2 linked regions of the Homo sapiens genome follow. The protein of the gene in region 1 interacts with the protein of each later gene in a pairwise test. Each region holds a gene or a part of one and is shown on either strand. Other genes may lie near its edges.

Region 1 (5,116 bases):
TGGCTGGATCTAACCCAAGGGTACTCTCGATACCTCTTAAGCCACATTCCAGGTCTTCCCCCTTCCAATGCTTTTCCCCATTTCCTAACCACTCACCCCCATCCTGATCCCCAGCTTCTAGGTGAGGACTTACCAGCTCTTTGGTTGCACCAGAGGACATTGTTGCTTGCTTGCTTGTCCAGGCCTGTGCCCAGTGGTATTGGGAGTGGGGGGTGTCTCACTAGACCCTGCACACTGAGGCTCCTGAGTGATGGCCTCCAGCAGTGGGCTGCATGGCAGACACTTGCTTTGGAAGGAGGTCTGAACACAAAGGGGAAAGACAGATCTGGGAGACTGATTTGGAGTTGCATAAGAAAGCTCCATGCATTTTTACTGTTCATTTAAGAAACCTGGACCATATCCAGCAGGACAGTTAGGTTACCTGGCATGTAGGTGGCACTTAAGAGCTATGCCGAATGCACAGCATGTGCCTGCCACTCTCATGTAAGCATCTTATAGGGATTGATTTGTGGAGTCCTCACAGCAGTCCTTTGAGCTTGGTAGTATTTTTTATCCCTCTTATCCAGATGAGGAAATGGAGGTGCAGAGAAGTGAAGGAACATGTTCAAGATCACCTGCTACTAGGTAGAGGTGCTGGGATTTGAACCTGGTCGGCCAGGTGCCAGAACTCTTGGCTGCTACATCAATCTGCCTGAAAACAAATCGTGAAATTTGGGAGACTGTAGAGACTTCTCTGCTTTCATTTTTAAGGTGAGGAGCCTGATAGCCGAAGAGAGAAGGAACTTTTTACCAACTCACCAGTGGATAGTGACAAAGACAAGGCTCCAAACCAGCTCTCCTAACCTTCAGTCCAGGAGGCAAGGTATATAGCAGAAAAAACACAGGCATTCCATGTACTCATTGACTGGGCAGGTGGTTAACTGAACATCTACTTTGTGCAGGGACTTGGACATGCAGGGGACAAAACAAAGTCTCTCACCTTGCAGAGCAAGCATTCCTTCTGCAGAAGTGTACCGAGCACCACTATGCAAGGTAGAGAGGACCTGGAGGTTAAGACCTGCCCTCAGGAAAGAGAAGCTATTACCCTGGATAGTGAGTGCTGAGACAGAGGTGGCCAGGGTGCTGTGATGCCCTGGAATGGAACCTGAGCTGGCAAGATCGGGGGGCTTCCTGGAGGAAATGAGGGGTACTAGAGCCGAGTTTTCAAGGTGATGTTGGGTTAGTTGGGGGAAGCAGGTGGGAACCAGGCAGAGCAACAGTGTGTATCAAGTCTCACAAGACAGAAAACCTGGCTCAGGCCAGACAGAGCTGGTTTCACATGCAACTCTAGCACTTTGGTAAGTCCTTGCAAAGAGGCTATGAAGACCTTGTGCAATGAAATTCATTCTTTCCCTTGCCCCTACCTTCCTGCTTCCAGCTATACCACAGAGCACCTGTCCTGTTAATGAAAATTGTGGGTAACGTGATTTTGTAAAGTGCTTAAGATCTTCAATATGCAATTGAAATTTGTTGCTTAAGGAATCAACTTGTCATTTTTGGGAAATCATGTAGTCTATATGATCACATTCTGGATCCTTTAGTATGAATAAAAACCTATTTTGTGTGTGTTTATAACTAATCTTTAACGTAGGCTGGACGCGGTGGCTCATGCCTGTAATCCCAGCATTTTGGGATGCCGAGGCGGGCGGATCACCTGAGATCAGGAGTTCAAGACCAGCCTGGCCAACATGGTGAAACCCTGTCTCTACTAAAAATACAAAAATTAGTTGGGCATGGCGGCAGGCACTTGTAATCCTAGCTACTTGGGAGGCTGAGGCAAGAGAATTGCTTGAATCTGGGAGACAGAGGTTGCAGTGAGCCGAGATTGCGCCACTGCACTCTAGCCTGGACAAGAAGAATGAGACTCTATCTCAAAAAAGTAAAAAATATAAAATAAATAAATAAAAAATCTTAATGTTATAATGTGATGCTAACATCGAAGCTTGTTTGCTCTCCTGAGCTTGGGCTGGGGGATGCTCCAGATCTGTTGTGGGCCCCTGCTACTGCCCATCTCTGCTCATTCATGTGCTCCTTGGGCTACAGGCAGGCCCCTTGAGTGGTAGTTCTATTTGTAATCTAAGCATATTTAGGGTTAAAATTAATACCAAAAGCAAACAAAATAATATTGTTTAGATGCATTCAAATTCACACTTCTTACATGTCATATTTCCTAGGTGAACCACTAGATGCACAGAAGGGGAAAATGGAATAAAAAATGTGTAGTAAATTTTAAAAAAGGAAAGGAAGAAAAAGAAAAATAGAATAAGCAAGACAAATAGCTCAGAACAAGGTGGCAGATTTAAATGCAAACATATCGGTAATTATGTGTTAAATACTCCAGTTAAATGAAAATGTTGATCTGACTGGATAAGAAAACGAAACCTAATTCTGTGTTGCTTAATATAATTATCTCAGTGAGAAAACATTTGATAAAATTTACCATCTTTTTGTGTTTAAAAAAACAGGAAACTAGAAATGGAAGGAATTTCATTAGTTTGATTAAGTATATCTAGCAAAAAAACTTACAGCAAATATCACATTTAATGGCAAAACATTGAAAGCTTTCTTATTGAGATCAAGAAAAAGACAGGAATGCGCATTATGACCAACTCTATTCAGTTTTGTGTGGGATAGCCTTGTCAATGAAGTAAGCCAATAATTATAAATAAAAGATGTAAGGTTTGGAAAGAAGGGAAGCAAAACTGGCATGTGTAGATAATATGGTTGCATATTTTTGCACTGAGATTTCTATGTGTAGAAAATAAAGATTCTACAGTTAAATCATAAGTATTAATAAGTTTAGGTGAATGCTGAATCCAAAATCAAGATGCAAAACCAGTTGTATTTCTATGTATCACTAGCAAATAGAAAATAAAATATAGGCAGGGAGTTTTACACCTGTAATCCCAGCACTTTGGGAGGCTGAGGCAGGAGGATCGTTTGAGCCAAGGAGTTTCAGACCAGCTTGCACAACATAGTCCAGCCTGTCTCTACAAAAAGTTAAAACAAATTAGCCAGGTGTGGTGGTGCATGCTTGTAGTCCCAGCTACTTGGGAGGCTGAGGTGGTGGGAGGATCACTTGAGCACAGGAGGCTGCAGTGAGCTATGATTGTGCTACTACTGCACTGCAGCCTGGGTGACAGAGGGGGACCCTGTTTTGGGTTTTTTTAATTTAAAAATATGTTTACAATAATATAAAAAATAAGATAACTAGGAAGAAATTAATAAAAGATACGCAAAACTCTGATAGGGAAAAATATACTTCGTTGAGAGCTATCAAAGAACATTAAGTAACTGGTGTGATATATTATGTTCGTGGATTAGTAAAGTCAGTATTTAAGCCTTTCAGTTTTCCCCAAATTGATCTATAGAGACAATATTGTACTAATCTAAATCTCAACATGATTATTTTTATGCAACTTCACAGATTCTAAAATTTATATGACCCTCAAAGGGCCAAAAATTGCCAAGACATTCTTGAAGAGAAACCTATCAGAAATCCTCTCTTTTTTACAGCTATAGAAATTATGGCTGTGTGATGTTGGCACAAGGATAAACAGATGGGCCAGAGAAACAGATGGAGAGAACCAAAAAACAGATCTGTGTCTGATTTAAGACAGAGGTGGCTCTGCAGACCAGTGGGCAGTAATGGTCTTTTTAAATAATGGTGCTGAGACAATGAGCTACCTGGTCACACCATGTGCAAAAATAAACTCCAGGTATCCACATCAGACCTAAATGTGAAAGGAAAGCTATAAAGCTTTGAGAAAATACTACAGAGCTATACAATAATAATGCAAAGCTATAAAGCTTTGAGGAAATAATACGATTGTTTTTGTGATCTCAGTGTAGGGAGGTGTTTCTTAAAACTAGTATACTAATCCTAAAGGAAAAGACTAATAAATTTGGCCATATTTCAATTAAGAAAGATAAATGATGAAGTAGAAAATATTCATTACACCTCTAACTAATCAAGGACATACATTGTGTATATATAATAAATTCCCACAAACCAGTTAGGAAAATGGCAGGCAACGCAATGGAAAAATGGACAATACTTTACTGAGTACTTAAAAATAAACATTGAAGTGGTCAATAAACATTTTCTATTAACATTGCTCTTGCTGTAAAAATTGGTACCACTGCTTTGGAAAACAATTTGGCATTACGCAGTAAAGTGAAGACACATATGGTGGCCCAGCAGTTTTATCCCCAGGAATATATTATGAAGAAACGAGTTCCCATGTGTCCCCAGGAGACATGTACAAGAAGGTTACCTCCTCTGGGTCTAACTTGATCCTCTGTATAATGGGACTCACAGTGCTTAACCTTATAGGGAGAATTCGAATTAAATAATTGAATTAAATAGAATGTTTGTAAAGTGCATAATTTAGTGCCTTGTGTCTAGTACATGCTTAATAGTAACTGCTTGCTAGCAATAGTAATATAATTGTTGGTTAGTCTCATCAGCTGACATCTCAGAGAAGGGCCATTTTAGGATTGGTCTTTTCTGAAGGAAACCAGAACTCTCCAAGTGATTGAAAAGTTTGAGAAGATCAAGGGACTATCCCCTTCCCATCCTTATTGTCCCATAAATTCCTAAGGGCCAGGGTTGAAGGGCAGGGGCTGAACTGTGTTGTTTTGGGGCCTGCACACCTTTGGGTAATGCGTATGGACAGCTGCTTCACTCCTGTCACTTAACTAATTTGGCAAATCACTAAATTTTCCTTTTGAACTGTATTACATGATTTTGTATCAAAAATCTCATTCTATAAAATAAAACATTGGAATGACATTTCAGTGGTTTTGTGGGGGCACTCATGCAAATTAGAGATGATATACTACAGAAAACAAAGTTTAAAAATCTTAAATATTGTCACTTAAGATTAAAAGATCAAAATGAGTTGAAAATAAAACAGAACTGCAGAAAATGAAATCAGTAACCATTTTGTTTTCTGTAGTGAAAGACTTAAAGGAATGGGCTACTGAGTGGGACAAATGGGCTAGTTCTCTATTTCCTAGCAAATTGCCCCAAAACTTAGTGCCTTAAAACAAACATTAATTATCTTTGAGTTTC
Region 2 (3,500 bases), on another chromosome or scaffold:
ACTCAGTCGCATTACCACATAATTCTGGTAACATATCAGAATTACTTCTTCTTTAGACTTAGCACCTACAGCTAGTTTTGGGGTAAGAGACTAGTTCTATGATGGTATTCCATGATGTGTTCTTACTTAGCAAATCTTGGCTAGTTCTTTGATTTGTGGGCTATTTTTACATGGAAGATCTGTTACCAAAAATTTTATTTCATAATTGTTTAATGAAAGAAAGAACCAAAAAAAGTTCCCAAAGGAAAAGACAAAATACTCCATTCTATCTGGGCCCTCTTTGGAGATTTACTGAATGTAAAGATCATCCACAAACACAAGCTAATTACAAATCACATAACACAAGTTTAAGATTACCCAACATATTTATTCATATCATTCTTGTATTTACCAAGACTACTGGTAAAATAAATAAAAGTTGTAGACCCTCTCCCCAGAAAAATCACAAATTAATCCCAAGTGGCATTAATTTATTTTGAGGGTGGCAAGCAAAAGTATGGATATCACTGCCCCAGAAACTAGGGCCTAGCTGACAAAACTGCCTCCTAATCTAATTTCAAAGATGCAAAGATTAGCAGAAGGAAGTAAAAATTACCAATTATCTAAAATTTCAAAAAGAAATATTTTGGAAATCAAGTAAGATCTAGTGAACACATAATGTGCTTGAATTTCTTAATTTTATTCACGACTTTAGAAATGTGAATGCCAGCAATTTCTTAGCATTAAATCATCCTGGATCTCAAAGTATTCCATAATCGTCATATTTCAGAAAGACACTACAAAAACCATCAACGGTATTTTCATTTCATGGTCAGAAAAAATTTGCAAGGAGAAAATAAATGTCTTGCCCCATATCACTAGACTGAAATATTTGTGCATTTAAAATTTTTTCCAAAGCATAAGCAACACCTAACTTAAAAATGAATTTTTTCTGACAGATGAGCCAGCTTGGTAGAAAAATTTTTTTCCAACAAGCACAATCTATCAATTTGTTTTCTTTCAAAACACTTTCCCTTTAAAACAATAGTAATTTGGGCCCAGTGCGGTGGCTCATGCCTGTAATCCCAGCACTTTGGGAGGCCAAGGCGGGCGGATCACAAGGTCAGGAATTCAAGACCAGCCTGTCCAATATGGTGAAATCCCATCTCTACTAAAAATAAAAAATTAGCTGGGCATGGTGGCAGGCGCCTGTAATCCCAGCTGCTTGGGAGGCTGAGGCAGAAGAATCGCTTGAACCCGGGAGGCGGAGGTTGCAGTCAGCCAAGATCATACCACTGCACTCCAGTCTGGGTGACAAAGCGAGACTCTATCTCAAAAAAAAAAAAAAAAAAGTGATTTGATTCCCCTACCCCATAAAGCCTACTGTATCTACAGTGCATGAATAAACATATACTAAGTGTCAGTCCTAGAGTATAAAAAAACCAAGCAATCCAGAGACTTGACAAAATTCTGAAATCGGTTAAGCTTTGCTTTGGCATTCCTCCTACCTTCCTTCTGGTGCTCCTACTCCCATTTCTAAGAAGTTCCTCGTATCTTTCCAAAGTTCTTCACCTGAGACACCTACTCAAGATTTCTTTCCCTTGATCTGTCTCACTTGTTGAGATAACTGATTTCAGCCAACGAACACAACCAACACTTGATTTAATCATTAACATTTAGTAAAGGCCCTTGACTTTTCTGTGTGTCAACAGCCCCCTTGAAAAATCTCATAAATGTTGTGGACCCTCTCCCCAGAAAAATCACACATGCACTCACACATAACTTTTCAAACAATTTTAAGGGATTCAGGGTCACACAGCCAAAATATATAAACCCCAGAACCAGAAAACCCCAGGTTAAAAACCCCCATACTTAACATATTAATATCATAAAACCTCAAAACTCTGCAAGAGGTTATTTGTATTTTAAGACACTGTCAACTCAAATGAAATCTCCAATTCTCAGAATTTAAGACAATGTAAAAGAGGCAAAAAAAAAAAAAAACAACCCAAACAATATGGAGATTTTTAGGCAGCCTTGTCATTGGGGGTCATCTCCCAAAGCATTTAAGCTGCAACTCCCATTGCAGAGAGACATGGAAGAACAGGACCTATTTCTAAGCATGGGTCTTCTACTAAGTTAGATTCTGTAGGACCTACCCCTGAATTTAGTAATGCTCTAGAAATCTATTCTGTCTAAACTATCATGGTTCCCAGCAAAACAATACATATATATATATATATATATATACACACACACACACACACACACACACACACACGTGTATATATATGTGTGTGTGTGTGTATATATATATATATATATATATATATATATATATATACACGTATGCCAAGTCCAGTTTTTATCCCAATGATTTTTTTTTTTTTAATAGATACGAGGTCTTGCTATGTTGCTCAGGCTGGTCTTGAAGTGCTGGGTTCAAGCGATCCTCCGGCATTGCCCTCCAAACCAATGAACTCTGTGGTATTTCACACGGCTAACTTCCCTGTCAGTATTCACTTAATCCCTCTCTTCAGCTTCTTCAACCCTATAACCTTATCTGTTTAGCCATTCTTTCTCAACTTACTTCATAGGTTTCTATTCTTCTACTTGACCCTCAGATGTAGATGCTCTTCAAGGTTGCCCTTAGTTTTTTTTCTTCACTCCTGATATGGTTAAGCATTCCTAATCCAAAAGTTTAAAATCTGAAATGCTCCAAAATCTGAAACTTTCTGAGTGTTGACATGATGCCACAAGTGGAAAATTCCACACCTGACCTCAGGTGACATGTTGCAGTCAGAATGGAATCAAAACTTTGTTTCCTGCACAAAATTATTTAAAATATTGTATAAAACTGCATCCAGGTTGTAAGATGTATATGAAACACAAATGAATTTCAAGTTTAGACTTGGGCCCTATCTCCAGGGTATCTCATTATATGCATACCAACATTACAAAGTCAAAAAAAACTCCAAAACATTTCTGGTCCTAAGCATTTTGGATAAAGGATACTCAATCTGTACTATTTTCTCTTTCTTTTTTATAGACAGGGTCTTACACTGACACCCAAGCTGGAGTGCAGTGGCCCTATCATAGCTTGCTACAGCCTCAAACTCCTGGGCTCAAGTCATACTCCAGCCTCAGCCTCCCGAGTAGCTGAGACCACAGGTGGCTACCACTATACCTGACAAATTTTTTAAATTTTTGTAGAAACAGGGTCTCACAACGTTGCCCAGACTGGTTTTGAACTCCTGGCCTTAAGTGATCCTCTGCCTTGGCCTCCTAAAGTGTTAGGATTACAGGTGTGAGGCACCATGCCTGGCTTTCTGCAGTTTCTATATGGCATTATACTGATGAATGCAAATCCCCTAATTTATCCCAATGTCCCCTTGAGCTCCAGCCCAAATACCCAGGTACTTACTTGACCTTTCTTGATTCCCAGATATCTTAACACATCTGGAGTCATACTCTATTACCTTCCTCCTCAAATTCTGTTCTTCCTATACATTCCCTATCTT

What was found. Proteins that work in one complex are often made in the same cells at the same time.
Region 2: the proteins of TRIM35 (region 1) and NRF1 interact in binary tests that used the Homo sapiens proteins (3 or more experiments, as listed by UniProt).

What each region holds. Positions count from the first base shown.
Region 1 is NC_000008.11:27,300,507-27,305,622, reverse strand, and holds part of TRIM35 (E3 ubiquitin-protein ligase TRIM35), read left to right. Parts: intron 1-779; exon of another isoform or gene 780-862; intron 863-5,116. UniProt on the Homo sapiens protein: E3 ubiquitin-protein ligase that participates in multiple biological processes including cell death, glucose metabolism, and in particular, the innate immune response.
Region 2 is NC_000007.14:129,618,220-129,621,719, reverse strand, and holds part of NRF1 (nuclear respiratory factor 1), read right to left. Parts: intron 1-3,500. UniProt on the Homo sapiens protein: Transcription factor that activates the expression of the EIF2S1 (EIF2-alpha) gene. Links the transcriptional modulation of key metabolic genes to cellular growth and development.